Linked DNA regions of Homo sapiens: region 2 is linked to region 1. A link means that fine-mapping ties the variant in region 1 to the expression of a gene that starts in the linked region. Tissue or cell type: whole blood. Region 1 holds a variant in brackets; the other region holds the start of a gene. All regions are shown on one strand. Distances are between the middles of the regions.

Region 1 (8,241 bases):
AAGATACAAAATAATTAGTCTCTTAGTCTCTTTTTCTTTTTTTTTTTTTTTTTGAAATGGAGTCTTGCTCTGTCACCCAGGCTGGAGTGCAGTGGCGCAATCTTGGCTCACTGCAACCTCTGCCTCTCAGGTTCGAGCAATTCTCATGCTTCAGCCTCCCAAGTAGCTGGGACTACGGGTGCCCGCCACCAAGCCAGGCTAATTTTTGTATTTTCAGTAGAGGTGGGTTTCACCATGTTGGCCAGGCTGGTCTCAAACTCCTGACCTCAGGTGATCCCCCCTGCCTTGGCCTCCCAAAGTGCTGGGATTACAGGCATGAGCCACAGCGCCCGGCCAATTAGTCTTTTGATAAGGGTTCTATAAGGCCTAATCATCTGCATTATTACTCATTTAATTGTATATTACTTCCTGGCCAGGCACAGTGGCTCACACCTCTAATCCCAGCACTTTGAGGGGCCAAGATGGGCAGATCACTTGAGGTCAGGAGTTCGAGACCAGCCTGGCCGATACGGTGGAACTCTCTCCATTAAAAACAAAAATTAGCGGCCAGGCACGGTGGCTCACGCCTGTAATCCCAGCATTTGGGAGGCCAAGGCAGGCGGATCACGAGGTCAAGAGATTGAGACAATCCTGGCAAACATGGTGAAACCCCGTCTCTACTAAAAATACAAAAATTAGCTGGGCATGGTGACACGTGCCTGTAATCCCAGCTACTCAGGAGGCTGAGGCAGGAGAATCACTTGAACCCGGGAGGCAGAGGTTGCAGTGAGCCGCGATTGCGCCACTGCACTCCAGCCTGGCGACAGAGAGAGACTCCATCTCAAGAAAAAAAAAAAAAAAATTAGCTGGGCGTGGTGGTGGGCGCCCGTAATCCCAGCTACTTGGGAGCTTAAGGCTCGAGAATCACTTGAATCCAGGAGGTGGAGGTTGCAGTGAGCTGACATTGCAACACCACTCTAGCCTGGCAAAAGAGTAAGACTCCATCTCAAAAAAACCCCACAAAATTTATATTACTTCCTTTTTCAGTTTTCCCTCGTAAAACTTGTGAAGTCATTACATGTCAGCACCAATTTCATTATTAATAAACAAAAAATATACTCTAGTTGGAATTAAACTCTCATCATCAATGTAGTTAGACCCATGCAATTAATACCTAATGCCCCTTTTCTCCACTAACTAATATGGCATCTAATTTATAATAAAATATTTTAAGTCTCCTGTTATATTTAAATTGCATCAAATTTAAATTATGTTAATTATAAGACTGGCATGCCAAGCCAAATTATCACAGAAGATTACATGAACAAGCAATGTTAGTGATAGATGCTTTTTGTTATCCATCAAATAATTACTAAGTTTTCTTTTTAAAAAAAATCAGTGTTTATGGGCACACAATTAAATACCATTTAGAAAATCCTTAACTTAGGACCAGGTCACTGGCTTAGTTAAAGTATATTTATATTTGATAGTTTCCAAGGTAAGGTTACCATTGGGGAAATTGTGATAATTAAGTCAAACAGTTGTACCACTGACCTAACCAGTACATTAAGGATTTCTAAATGTATCTTATTGTGTATTTAGCATAAGTGGCCATGCTAATATTATCAATACCAAACTGCAGACAAGATTAGTTAAGAACTATGCAGAAAACCTGAGCATCCTACCTTTACTTTCTATACATTCGCATTACCAATTTTTTCTTTTCAAAACATCCCTTGCATCAAGTGCTACTTTCTAACAGCTCTTAAGATTCTCTGTTCACCAGAACAAGCAACATTAAAGATAACATTGGTTCCCATGTTATATATTCATTACTAATAGCACTTATCAAAGCTAAACCTAGATAATATTCCTTCTTTCCTGACATACTGCTCAGTGGCAAGTACACTTCTTCTCAACCAGCATAGGAAACCTTTCCTTTGGGTCATTTCCCTTCTCAAAAAACTTTGCTTAAGGGAAATTGGAGCTAAAGAGCTTACCAACAAATAGCCCTACTAGAGTTCAATAAATATGCTTTGCTATTAAGTCTAATATACAAATATGATAGAAGTTTGAAAATGGAACCTTATCCCAGTGCTATATTGGCACGTAACATGGCTAGTGATCATTTCAAAAGGAGTCATGTTATGTTTTGAGTTTGTTTGTGATAAACCTATTGTCTAAACAGATTTATTCTTTAAGAATATACACAAGAGGTTTTCCTCCATTATTTTCACACATCAGATATGGTGTTTGGTTTTTTGAAGGAGGGAGGGGGTACTATCTACAACAAATACTTCATTCATAGCCATAAACCATTTGTATCTTGGGCTTGAGCCCCTGGTTAAATCAGGAATGCTCTTCAGCGCTGCTGCTGAATGATCTGCTCCGGATGTGATTTCTCAGTTGCTCTATAAGTTCAGGATTTTGTTGCTGTATCTGCTGAGCAAACTGCTGTCCCCTGTAGTAAAGAGGCAATGTGGTTTGAATAGGGAATTGCCAGTCACATTTACCCACGCAAAAAGAAATGCAGAAAATGTAGGAGCTACCTAAAGGGGGCTTTTTTCTATAAAAACAAGTTTCAGAGCCATGACTTTAGAATCTACAAGTTTACCAATGCCTCCATATAGCATTATTACAATGCAGTGTTCTTTATAAGAAACAAAACACCCATGCTAAAAAAAATAAGTACCTCAACTGGGTGAAATCTACTTCTCTAGTGCTAATGACAAAGAAGCAAAGGGTAAGACGTATATGTTTTTATTGTATGTGCTCAAATACAATGCTTTTATACCCAAGTCTTAATAGTCTCATATAACACCCAGTTTGGGATGCTTTTGGAGGTCACCTAACAAGTAATTTTAAAAACACTAAGAAGTTTAACACAAATTGTAGTATGTGACCCTCTATTGCCAGTGTTAGATGTCATTATATGCCATTTAAAGGTCATTCTAAAAATGCAATATTCTAAGTGGATACACAGTTGTGCTGACAAACAACAAGTGGTACTGTGGCTTCATATAAAATGTCCAGCGAGAGCATCAGACACAGATTCAAAAAGCAAAGTTGTCTTCGCCAATTTGATATAAGTGAAGGCAATGTGCTCAAGTAATGAGAAGATGCAAGTAGTTCCTCTAAGTGTTGACAGGCACTGAAAAAGTTTGAATAAAAATTTCCTGAATTGCCTGAACATTAAAGTATGTAACAAGTGATTTTAAACTATGTATGTGTACCTAAATTGATATATATTTTAAGAGGATATTTGACCTTCATCTGTGTCCCTGAGTAGTTTGAAGTCTGCTGAAAAACTTCCTGGATCTTCATTGGGAAAAAATGGGGGATTAATAGCTTTATATATATATGAGATCACAATTTATTTGGACATATGATTTTTACTGTTTGTCTCCATACCCTCAAAGTACCAGGTCACCAATCCTTGGGACCCTCTGTAAGCAGAGATACAGTATTGATACCCCCACTTAAAAACCAAGGACCCTAATTTCATGCTGACAACACAATCAAGTAAAATTAGGCTGCAAATGAAAAGACTGAATGTGCTATGGGTTCCTTAGTAAGTCACTAACCTGTACCTCAGTTTCTCTAGCCATTGGGTAGGGATATAAATTATCTACTTTTCTAATATCTGTCCCTCACCTGCCTTATTGAGATGGTGCCAAAAAAGAAAAGAAGAAAAAGATTCTGCTGGTACTTGAAAGTCCCAAAAAATAAAGCATAATGAACCGGGGGCGGGGGTGGGGGTGGGGGGAAGCATAATAAACATGGTTCTTTTTCTCAACAGACAGGGCTGGCCAGACTATCTAGGTATGGATTCCTGCCCTGCAGTCTAAAAAGTGGTTGTAATTCATGAACTTCTTTCAGATTTAGTAACATTAAGGAGGCTAAAGTTACTAACGGTAAAAGATAAACATTTAAAAAGAAAGCCCTGACCCCTCACCATAGAGATAGGCTGTAAAACATAAAATACATCTTCACTATTTCTGTTTTAAATAATACTTACGCTTGGATGAGGCTTGACAGGTCAGTTAGGCCCCCAACTCCAGCAGCAGGTCCCCCAATGGCATTTGTCATCATTCCTGACATTCTAGAGTACACAAGAAATACATCACTGGGATTGGTATATATTCTTAACAAATAGGACAACTGGACGAGGAAAAGTTAATAAAATACCCATGTTATACCAGAGGCTAGGCCAAATGTGTGTGGCTTTAAGCTCCAACTGACTGTCATTCAGAACAGTTTCATCATTTTTGAGCTGATGTGCTCAAATTAGGAGCCTGGCAAGTGGAAGGGTTGGGGAAGTGTAATAAGCTCTTTCTATATACTTACAGCTGTTGAACTTGAGGGTTCTGCATTAAACTTGCCGCCTGGAATTGAAAAACAGCACCTCCCATTAAAGGCAGTTAATATGTAGGGATCTTAGCAAAGATTTTTTTTTTAGAAGAATGAAAGCTAAATCATGTATGCACTAACATTTTGTAGAGTTTCAGTGTGCTATGCAAAGTAAAGGGGAATGTAAAAAGAGAGAAGGTACTAGAAAAAGTGGCATTAAGAAGACATGGTGAGGATAAAGAGATTACAAACAACACTATAAACTGAGGATGTTGACAGCAGTTTACTTACTACTGCTATCAGACCAATTAAGCCAAAAGGAAAAATAGGAACTTTAAAAGTATGGTTAAGGGATCTCCTACACTTGAGAAGGTCCATTCCAAACGAGCTTTTAAGAGATGTGACTTTGCTCC[A/G]TGGGGCCCAGCAATTTCAATCCTTCCCATGCTTACAGTGGCACAAGGAATTATATTTATGTGCACACATACTTTTAAAACATTCTATTTTGAAAGCATCACATTTTTTCCCTCAAATTGGTAATGTCGACAATATTTATGTAAAATTTGAATTTAGTCTAAATCTTTGTAGACAATAGATTATATTCACAGACTCTCTATGAGGTGTTGGGAAAAGCCACCACTTGCTTATATTACCAGAAAGATCACTGACTGATTCGTAAGTAATTCAAAACTTTCCTCAAGTCCCAGTCAGGATTGGTGCCTCTGAGCCAACCCATAAGTGCTAAAGGCATTACACAGGAAAAGCAGGATGTATGAGCTATAAACATGAAATGCTGTGTTTTGCAATCCCTTTAAACTAGTTCTGCAGCAGTAGTTCTTCCCCTTCTCCCACAATCTAGGACCTAGAGGAAATTTAGAACAGATCTATGCTTTTCCAGTCACTTTTCAGTAAGCAATCCTCCTGTCACTTTAAGTTCTATAAAATGACCTCCAGTTCAGCAATTAATGTCTCAGTGTAACAATCAAATACATAAAGCTTCATTTACAGGTAAAACTTCTCCCTTCCTAGCATGGGCCTGCTACAGACTGACCGGTTGTAGTAGAAAAGAGGCACCATTGACTGCTTTGTTTCCTATAGTAGCGGTCCCCAACCCCTGGGCCACAGACTGTTAGGAACCAGGCTGCACAGCAGCAGGTAAGCGGTGGGCGAGCAAGCATTACTGCCTGAGCTCCACCTCCTGTCAGATCAGCTGCAGCATTAGATTCTCATAGGAGCAAGAACCCTATTGTGAACTGCGCATGTGAAGGACCTAGGTTGAGTGCTCCTCAAGAGAATCTAACGCTCCTCTCCCCATCCTGCCCCTACCCCCTACACCCGGTATGGTCCATGGAAAAACTGTCTTCCATGAAACCAGTCCCTGTTACAAAAAGGTTGGGGACCGCTGTCCTATAGGGCTATTTTTTTTTTTTGAGATGAAGTTTCACTCTGTCACCCAGGCTGGAGTGCAATGGCATGACCTCAGCTCACTGCAACCTCTGCCTCCCGGAGTCAAGTGATTCTCCTGCCTCAGCCACCCAAGTAGCTGGGATTACAGGCATGCACCACCATGCCCAGCTAATTTTTGTATTTTTAGTAGAGACGGGGTTTCGCCAGGTTGGCCAGGCTGGTCTGGAACTCCTGACCTCAAGTGCTCCGCCCATCTTAGCCTCCCAAAGTGCTGGGATTACAGGTGTGAGCCAGCACACCAAGGCCTATAGTGCTTCTTTATCCTGTAGTACTTCCAGTCCTCTTCCCTCAGCTTGCTGATTAAGAGTTGTGGCCCTCCAGGTTGAGGGTTAAATGGAGGGAAAGGTGAAAGGAGCAGCAAAGTTCTTATTTGATGACTGGTATTATCTTACTAGTTTTGCATTGGTGCTTTTTGAGTTTGCAAGGTATTCAAAAACTACTGTGGTTCTCTTATGGGGTACTTTCTCATGTTCTTCAGACACTTCTCCTTTCCCTAGGCCCTGGAGATTTCTTACCTATTCTTTGAAAAGGGTAATTTACCCTCTGGATGGATGCTATGACTTTCCCTTCAGTCTTAGGTTCTTGGCAGTCCTCCAGAGATTCTCTGTGTTGGGATCCTGTCACACTTCCAGGAAAGCCTCTTGAACATATTCAGACACACTCTCTCACAATTGTGTGTGCTCACCTTGGTCCACAGGAAACACCTCTGCTCCACTCTCATCAGTACAGTAACTGCCCAAACCACACAGCTAATTCTGCCACTGGCTATCCAGTTGAACTATCAGGTAGAAAGTCTCTGTACCAGAAAAGCCCTTTCTCAGTGAGGGCTTGAGATGAGAGCAAGCCTCCCTAATTCCTTCATATAGGGAGCCCTAAAACTCTAATAGCTCTCTCCAAAAATCATGTTTTAATTTCCATCAACCTGGCCTTTTTTATGAGTCACAAAACATGTTTTTTATCCCCATCTTTTGCAACTCCTACATGGTGGTCTCACACCTTATTTTGGTACATAGCAGCTTGGAGCCTAAGCCAAATCTGAAACTAAAAGAATTCCATTTTTCACATCTTGTTACAATGCCATAACCTGAGTCCTAGAATGGGTAACCATTCTTAAAAAAAAAAATGAAGTCACAAGATCTACAAAACATGTATTTGCTAGCATGGTAAGAAGGCTGAAATTTGATAAGGGAAAAATAAAAACTACCAGTTGCTAAAAAGACTTATCTCACTGGGAATGAGTCATCTGTGCATTTCAGTTCAACAGAAGATTTAATGGATGCAAGACACATTTTTTGAAGGAAACAAAAGATGAATAAAAACTGATTCCTGCCTTCCAAGGGCATATCATGGATAGAATAATTCTCATCCAAAGTATACAGTCACCCCAGGAGCTTGATATGCCCTGGTAACATCCTAAACCCACTAAATCAAAGTTACCACATATTGGACCAGAGCGTGTATGTTCTCAAAAAGGCCCATACATTATTTTGTTGTTTTGTAAGAATAGAAGACAAACACATGAGATATCTATATCTATATCTATCTATCTATATCAAATAAACTCTAAAGATAGAAAACAAGGCAGACAATGCTGAGGGGCAAGCTAGGGAACCACAATGGCCAAATACTCAAACTGCAGATGTTAGATATCTTCCTAGGACCACTTTTATGTAAGAGAGTAGTTTTTAACCTTTCATATATTGGCAGATTCCTGTGCCAATCTCATGAAAAATATGATGCTCTCCCTGGAAAAATGCACACATACACATGTACACAGATTTTTATATATAATTTTGGAAAAATCCATGAGCTTCCTAAAGTCCATCCATGGCTTTCCCACAGGAGGTACATGGACACGTTAAGAACCCTGCCATTCAGCCAGAGAGAAAGGCCAGGCCACCTACAAAGGGAAGCCCATCAGACTAACAGCAGATCTCTCAGCAGAAACCCTATAAGCCAGAAGAGATTGGGGGCCCATATTCAACATCCTTAAAAGAATTTCCAACCCAGAATTTCATATCTGGTCAAACTAAGCTTCATAAGCAAAGGAGAAATAAGATCCTTTTCAGACAAGCAAATGCCGAGGGAATTCATTACTACCAGACCTGCCTTACAAGAGTTCCTGAAGGAAGCACTAAATATGGAAAGGAAAAATTGTTACCAGCCACTACAAAAACACACTGAAGTATACAGACCAGTGACACTGTGAAGCAACCACATAAGTTTGCAAAATAACCAGCTAGCATCATGATGACAGGATCAAATTTACACATAACAATACTAACCTTAAATGTAAATGGGCTAAATGCCCCAATTAAAAGACACAGAATGGCAAACCAGATAAAAAAACAAGACCCATCAGTGAGCTGTATTCAAGAGACCCACTATACATACAAAGACACACATAGGCTCAAAATACAGGGATGAAGGAAAATTTACCAAGCAAAT
Region 2 (8,000 bases), 49 kb after region 1:
AGATTGAGGCAAAGGCTTAATCAGAATGGGTTTAAGAAGAATAGAAGGAGAGGAGTTGGAGAAAGCAAGTATAGACCATTCTTTCAAATGGTTTTGCTGCAAAGGGAGACATACAATTAAGCAGTAATTATTTGCTGTTTGTTTTTGCTTTTTTGAAGAAGGGAGAATAATGGTAAGTTTATATGATGATGGAAATGATCCAGTAGGGTATGAAAATTTTATGATGTAAGATTAAAAAAATAAAATAACTAAAGTGATATCCTGGAGTAGGTGAGACAGGATGGGATCTAGTATACCAGTAGAGGGGTTCCATTTAGAAAGGAACATGAATAGTCCATCTATGGTAATAGCTAGTCAAACAGGCAGGCAGGCCGAGTATGTGGGTGCCATCATATCCAGCTATTTTCTTATTATTTCAGCTTTCTTGGTGGAGTAGAAAGCAAGGTAACCAACTAAAAGTGAGGACAGTGAAGGAGGTTTGAGGGTTTGAGAAGATATGAGAAAGTGTTAAAATGGTCATCTAGGAAAATAAATGTATGAATGAACTTAGAACAGATACTGTGATTGCCTGACAGCATTAAAGGTCTACTTGAAGTTCACAGTCATGAATTTAAAGTGGGACTAGTCAGCAAAGTTGTGTGTTTTGCTCCATTTATTTACGGCTACATGAGTGGGTGTGAGTAGTTGGGCACAAAGTAGGTGGAGAGTTGGATTTAAACAAAGTTGGGCTTTGCAAGAAAGGGAAGGAGATACAAGGGAATAATTATAATTATCAACCATGGAATTTAAGATGAGTAAGAAGAGGTGTGGGGAAAGGTGAGGCATGAACAGATTGGAGGTACTGGTTGGGTCAAAGAATAGCTGGAGTAGGGATTCTAGAGGGAGTAATCTTGGAAAGACAGGCAATAGTGGTCAGGAAGTGAAATGTTTGGGATAGAGATTAGGGAAGGAATGCAATTCTGGTAATGATTAAGTCTAGGGAAGGCTTTCTCAATCTCCGCATACTGACATTTTGGATCAGGTAATTTCTTCTTGTCAGGGGCTGTCCTGTGCATTAGCAGCATCCATGGCCTCTACCTACTCACTAGATGCCAATAATACCAGCCACCCGCCTCACCCAGTTGTGACAATCAGAATGTATCCAGATATTGCAAAATCACCCCCAAGTTGAGAACCACTGATCTAGAATATGATCAAGTGTTTGAGATCACTGGATGAGGTCAATAACTGAGAGCCAGGGAACTAAAATAATCATCAATCAGTATATTGCAATTGCCAAGAACTAAATAGGAGTAGTGCTAGAGAGAGTGACAGTGAGCAGGAACCACAATTAGTCAAGGAATGAAGCAAATGTCAGTAGATGACAATAATTAAGAGGAGTGGGTGACATAATCTGATGGCAAGACAAAGCTGATGATATACCAGCTTCACAGTAGTGGTAAAGCTGGTATTAGAACTGAGGCTTCTTTCCTAGGGCTTTTAAAAATGTCTAGAAGGTGGGCAGACACCTCCACATGATTTCATGTTCAATTAAATTAGACTCACAGAGTCAAAAATAGGGGTCAGTCAAAAACAATTGGCACCCTTTCTGACTGCCATATATAACAAACAGCTGAAGGCACATATTTTTGGCTGAATACCATCCTAAAAATAGGACATAACATCTTGGTTTGAAAAAAAAACCCTCAATTTTCTTTCTGGCCCTTAAAACTTTTATGCTGCTTTTGATTAGAAAAGAAACATCTTTTCTTAAATGACTGCATTTATCTGTTTGCTACAGAGCAATCATAACTAACATTCTCCTTAGATAACCAATCAACTTTATTTTCACATAGTCTAATCATCAAGGAGAACAAAAAGACCTTAATATTAAATGGACTGATTGCAATGTTCTCCAACTGTGCATCACCTGCTCCTCTCACTGCCACCTGGAAAGACATCAACTAACCAGACTGCAAGGAGGTTTAGAGCAAATGCCCAATTTTCATCTCCACCTCCTAAAAGCATATTCACAGGGAAATGCTTGTTGAAATTATAGAAGCAGTTTCAAGATGGGATTTATAACTATACTGTCATTTATTAAGTTCTTCCAAATGCACTCTCACTGCAATAATTAAGACTTTGGGGCTGGGAGGGGTGGCTCATGCCTGTAATCTCAGTACTTTGGGAGGCCAAGGCGAGTGGATCACTTGAGCCCAGGAGTTTGAGAACAGCCTGGGCAACATGGCGAAACTCTGTCTCTACAAAAAAAAATACAAAACTTAGCCGGGTGTGGTAGTGTACTCCTGTAGTCCCAGCTACTCAGGAGGCCGAGGTGGGAGGATCAATTGAGCCCAGGAGGTGGAGGTTGCAGTGAGCCGAGATTGTGCCACTACACTCCAGCCTGGGTGACAGAGCCAGACAGACCCTGTCTCAAAAAATAAATAAATAAATAAAAGACTTTAGGCCACAGGGACACCAGATTCACTGAACCTCCACAAGCCCATCTGCAGAATTCTACCTTGTTATGGTTGTACTGAATTTAAATTTTATAACACATAAACATGAAGAACAAAGACGGTGTCGAGGAAACACATGATGCTATCACCCACATCCTGTTCAACTTTACAGATTACCGAATCCAATATTAAAGTTAACGTAAAACACAGGTGAAATGCTCCCATTTCAAGTTCCAAATTAGGCACTGGTCAGATCTCACTAGTGGTATAATTATTAGACTTTTACATAGTGCTATTAAAATGACTCAGGTATTTTTATATATTATTTCTAAACTGGATGCTTTCCTATTAGGAAATGGAGACAACAAGATCTTCAGAGTATTAACCAGGATTTAAATCTCAGCTTTATCACATATCAGCTGTGTTATCTGCTTACGCTATTTGGTTTCATTTTCTTTTTCTTTTTTTTTTTTTTTTTTTGAGATAGGGTCTCGCTCATGGCCCAGGCTGGAGTGCAGTGGTGTGATCTCAGCTCACTGCAACCTCCACCTCCTGGGTTTAAGCCACCCTCCTATCTCAGCCTCCTGAGTAGCTGGGACTACAGGCAAGTGCCACCACACCTGGCTACTTTTTGTATTTTTAGTAGAGACAGGGTTTTGCCATGTTGCCCAGCCTGGTCTTGAACTCCTGACCTCAAATGACCTACCTGCCTCGGCCTCCCAAAGTGCTGGGATTACAGGCATGAGCCACCAAGCCTGGCCCTGGTTTTATTTTCTCACTTGTTAAATGGGGATAATACTAACATAACAGTTGCTGTGAAGAAAAAATTGCCTATAATATGAACAGCATACTTCTGACATATAGTATTTGTTCAATAAATGAACAATAGTCCTCTTAATTTGTTGTTAAAACAAACAAAACAAGCTTCAGAAAATGGAAATACGATAACCTTATAGTCAGGCCTCTCCTCTTGAAAGATCAAAAAAAATTCTGATTATGTTACAATAGATCATCAAGTTGGGCTTACAGCTATTTTAGTCTTCGTTTATAATTATAATATAAATGAACACAAAGAGCAGATGCATACCTTCCAAACTTTCTTGTTCATCCGAGGTGTAAGTGTCCATCTGACTTTGTTCCCGTAAGAAACGAATAACTGCATAAACCAGGTGCTTGATAGATGACATTTTAGAAGCTTAAACACTTTTCCTTGATAAGAAAAATGAAAACACTGAACTAAGTTATTTTAAAGAATCAGTCAGGAAAGTCATAAATTACAAAGATGATATGGGTTATAAAGTGTATTAAAGGTAAAAACAAAACACAAAACTGTATGACCTTTCATCTTTTCTCTTTGTAAAGAGTCAGGAGAGCACAAAGTATTGTGAAGGTAATTTATTACATATTTTCATTAATACCCAGTGGTATACGAGTATGTTAAATCTTGGAATAAGTAAAAATGTCTTCAAAACATGTACAGCATAAGCTTAGACTGTCACTGCATATCTCACCATACAGAAATCCCCTAAAGGCCTCAGTACTAAGTTAAGAGGCATTTCATACTGCTGACTAAAAGCTGATGTATACCAAGCATCTTCCTCTTTTTCATGGGATCTAAAAAAAGTATTAATAATGTACACTCTACCCACTTTTGTAGGTTGAGAGTTATTTGATGAGGAAACACATTCGCGAAAGGTTATTCAAGTGGTGAGTGTCGTTCTTAATAAAAATGGCATTTCTATTTAATCAGCAGACATGTCAGGAAATCGCTGCCCAAGTCGATGGATACTACAAGCCGACCGGCGCTCCCTGCAGAGGCTGTGCTCTCGTGGACAAGCTGGAAGCTCCCGGTCATGTTCATTCACATGGAATACTATCGCATCCAAACAGTGGCGCAGGGCCAGGCGGCATTCATGGCTGATTTCCACCAAATCGCATCATCCATCTGCTCCCCAGGTTCCCTAATTCAAAGCCAGGGTGTGGTACCCGCCGCTATAATGTTTATTATTTGTGTAGTTATTTTAAAGGCGATGTCAGCCTCTAGGCCACGGGGTCATAAGCACTAAATAAGGCCCCAGGGCAGAAGGTAAAAACAGAATGGGGGGAAAAGGGGTGAGAAGAGGGAAATAGGCTTCTCCCCCTTCCTCTCCCCAGAGCGCATCGAGCTCCCCCTCCCTTCCGTCCTCCCTCAGGTACCCGGCCTCGCCTCGGCCCTGCCCGGTGTGCAGCGGGTGCCGGTGCGGGCCCCGGTCCGGAGCGGCGGGAGGCGCACCCTTGCCAGACAGAAGCCCCTTACCAAGCAGGAGGACGCGAGACGACTGCTGCTGGCCCGCGGGGTTCCGTAGGCAGGCCCGCCCGACCCCTGGTCCTCGGGGCTGGAGCCCGGCTCGGGATCGCAGCACTGGTCGCGGCGGCGCAAACTTCCCCGGCCCCTAGGCCGTAGACCCCAGAACCCACCAGGCTGTGCTCTCTCTCAGGCGGCAGGGTCTGGCCAGCACCGCCCCTGGGGCGGGGCCGGACGCGAGGGCTGGGGCGGGGCCAGACACGCGAGCTGGGGCGGGGCACGGCGCGGGGCGGGGCTGGTAGGCGCCGGCGTGGAGCTGCCGCACGTGGGAGGGCGCTGGCCAGGCAGCCACTGTGGCCTCTGCGGCTAGGCCGGCTCGAGACTCCCGGGCGCCCAGGCGCTGCCGCCCGCCTCGCCGCCCCACGCCGAAGGACCACGCGCCCGCCGCCGCCAGCCTCTCAGCGCTCCCATGATCGCCCGGTGCCTTTTGGCTGTGCGAAGCCTCCGCAGGTACCTCCAGCGCGCGGGTTAACCTTGGCCGTGGGCAGGGCGGGGTCTTTCGCCGTGTGGTGCCTGGAGCCCGGACCCACCCCTTCCCGACCGCGCCTCTCCGACGCTCCCGGGACGCACCCTCCCCGCGGCTTGCAAGGTGGACCCCTGGGGGACACCTGGCGCGGCCACCTGGGGCCACCTTTCCCGCCTCCGCTCCCTCGGGAGGACGTCCATTCCTCTTTGTTTGGGACTGCCTCAGCCGCAGTCAGCGAGGCTGGTCACAGACGCGGCCCAAAATGAATGCAAATAGTTTGGATAAGAAAATCATTTCACGTTCAATCCCAATGCAGAACTACAGACCTGTCATTAAAAGTGCCGCAGCTGTGGACTCAGAACAATTGTGTTTGCTCCTCGCGCCCATTATTAGCATTCCAATCGTTTAACATCCACCCGAGATGAAACCTCTTTGGTGGTGTTGCTTGTTTCCGTCCATGCTCTCTGACTTCCTTTTTTATTTTCCTCCTCCCCATAAAACAAACATTCTGCCTCTTGCCGGTGCAAATTGACTTGGCCCAAAATGGAGAAAATGATCGCTTGGACACGGCTTTGGGCAGCCTGAGCTGCTGTTTTGGATTGCTTCCTAGCCCTCTAACCACACCCCACTGCAACAGACCAGTAGCAAGATGGTGAGGGAATTAAATTCTTTGCACGGATGCGCTGGTTTTCGGAAACAATGCCGCCACCATCCCCGTTTCCAAATCTGCCCAGAACTGTAAATCCAAATGAAGATTCAACAGAATAAAGAAAATGTGTGCTTCTTGCTAGCTATCAACAAAACTACTTTGTAACATGTCAGCATTTAAGCTTTCTACAGTTCCCTTTTGCACATTGCCACTCGTCTGTGTGGATGGAGCTTTGTGTTGCTCAGTCCGTAGAGTTAGGGAGCAGGCAGGCGACAGTGGTTAATTACAAAGAGTTAATGTGGTGATTGGTGACCATATTTCAGCCTGTCGTTTTTTGCTAGTCTCCAGGCTGCAATCGATATAGCTGTCAAATGAAGTTATACCAAGAAATGAAGACTTCACATAATGCAGGGGTGAGAGGAGGGAATAAATCTTCATATAAGAGCAATTCTCGGCCGGGCGCTGTGGCTCATGCCTGTAATCCCAGCACTTTGGGAGGCCGAGGCGGGTGGATCACGAGGTCAGGAGATCGAGACCATCCTGGCTAACACGGTGAAACCCCGTCTCTACTAAAAAATACAAAAAATTAGCCGGGCGTGGTGGCGGGCGCCTGTAGTCCCAGCTACTCGGGAGGCTGAGGCAGGAGAATGGCATGAACCCGGGAGGCGAAGCTTGCAGTGAGCCGAGATCGCACCACTGTACTCTAGCCTGGGCGACAGAGCAAGACTCCGTCTCAAAAAAAAAAAAAAAAAAAAAAGAACAATTCTCAAACTTTTTATTCTCAGGACCCCTTTACCTTTCAAAAATTACCGTGGACCTAAGAGCTTCTGTTTGTGTGGTATATCTGTCTATATTTACCATATTAGACATTAAAGCTGGAAAAAAATTAAAGTAGTTGTTAATTTACAAAACTAATAAATAGGCTAGGTGCATAAATAGTGATTTTAATGAAAAATAACTATTTTCCAAACCAACCCCCCCGCCCCCCAATCAGTGAGAAGATTAACATTGTGGGGTTTTTTCCCTTTTTTTTAAAATTGTGGTAAGATATAACAAAATTTACCATTTTGATAATTTTTAAGTGTACAATTGAGAGGTACAGCCAACACCACTGTCCATCTCCAGAACTTGTCATCATCCCAAACTGAAACCCTGTACCTATTACACAATAACTGCCCATTACTTCCTCCCCCAATCCCTGGTTAACCATTATTTTTTCTCTATGAATTTGAGTATTTCAGGTCCCTTATATAAGTGGAATTAGACAATATTTGTCCTTTTGCGTCTGGTTTATTTAGTATAGCGTTTTTAAGGTTTATTCGTTTTGAAGCATGTGTCGGGATTTCCTTTTTAAAACTGAATAATATTTCATTGTATGTATATACCACATTTTGTTTATCCATTTGTCAGTGGACATTTGGGTTGCTTCCACCTTTTGGCTATTGTGAATACTACTACTATGATCATTAATGTGCACATGTCTGTTTGAATCCCTGCTTTTAATTCTTTGGGATACTGTATGTACCTAGAAGTGAAAATTGCTGAGTCATAGGATAGTACTATGTTTAGTTTTTGAAACCATACTGTTTTCTTCAGTGGCTGTACCATTTTTACATTCCCATTGGCAGTACCTAAGGATTCCAATTTCTCCACATCATCATCAGCACTTATTTCCTGGTTTTGATAACAGTTATCCTAGGAGTGGCATTGTTTCTTTTTTTTTTCTTTTTTTTTTTTTTTGAGACAGAGTCTCTCTCTGTCGCCCAGGCTGGAATGCAGTGGCGCTATCTCGGCTCACTGCAAGCGCCGCCTCCCGGGTTCACGCCATTCCCCTGCCTCAGCCTCCCAAGTAGCTGGGACTACAGGCGCCCGCAACCACGCCCGGCTAATTTTTTTTTTTTATTTTTAGTAGAGACGGGGTTTCATCCTGTTAGCCAGGATGGTCTCGATCTCCTGACCTCGTGATCCGCCTGTCTCGGCCTCCCAAAGTGCTGGGATTACAGGCGTGAGCCACTGCGCCCGGCAGAAGTGGCACTGTTTCGCATTTTTGCAAAACTAATGTGTGACATAATAGAAGGTAACTGGATTCTTATGTCTGCCTCT

The links. PIP is the estimated chance that this variant, and not a neighbour inherited with it, causes the effect.
Region 2: SGTB starts here. The variant in region 1 is fine-mapped to the expression of SGTB in whole blood (TOPMed, PIP 0.96).

What each region holds. Positions count from the first base shown.
Region 1 is chr5:65,667,918-65,676,158 of GRCh38, forward strand. SGTB (small glutamine rich tetratricopeptide repeat co-chaperone beta) reads right to left here. Exons shown (of 11, transcript NM_019072.3): 9 at 4,327-4,364; 10 at 3,998-4,081; 11 at 1-2,440. The coding sequence ends at 2,329. Among named protein-coding and RNA genes, the nearest start is that of TRAPPC13, 47 kb to the left of the region's middle. The variant A/G (reference allele first, on the strand shown) is at 4,743.
Region 2 is chr5:65,717,183-65,725,182 of GRCh38, forward strand. SGTB (small glutamine rich tetratricopeptide repeat co-chaperone beta) reads right to left here and starts at 4,927. Exons shown (of 11, transcript NM_019072.3): 1 at 4,735-4,927; 2 at 3,526-3,647. The coding sequence starts at 3,625. It overlaps NLN (neurolysin), which reads left to right and starts at 5,023. Exons shown (of 13, transcript NM_020726.5): 1 at 5,023-5,232. The coding sequence starts at 5,192. RefSeq lists silencers at 2,257-2,453, 4,498-4,547, 4,608-4,657, 4,728-5,337 and enhancers at 5,614-6,435, 6,208-6,287.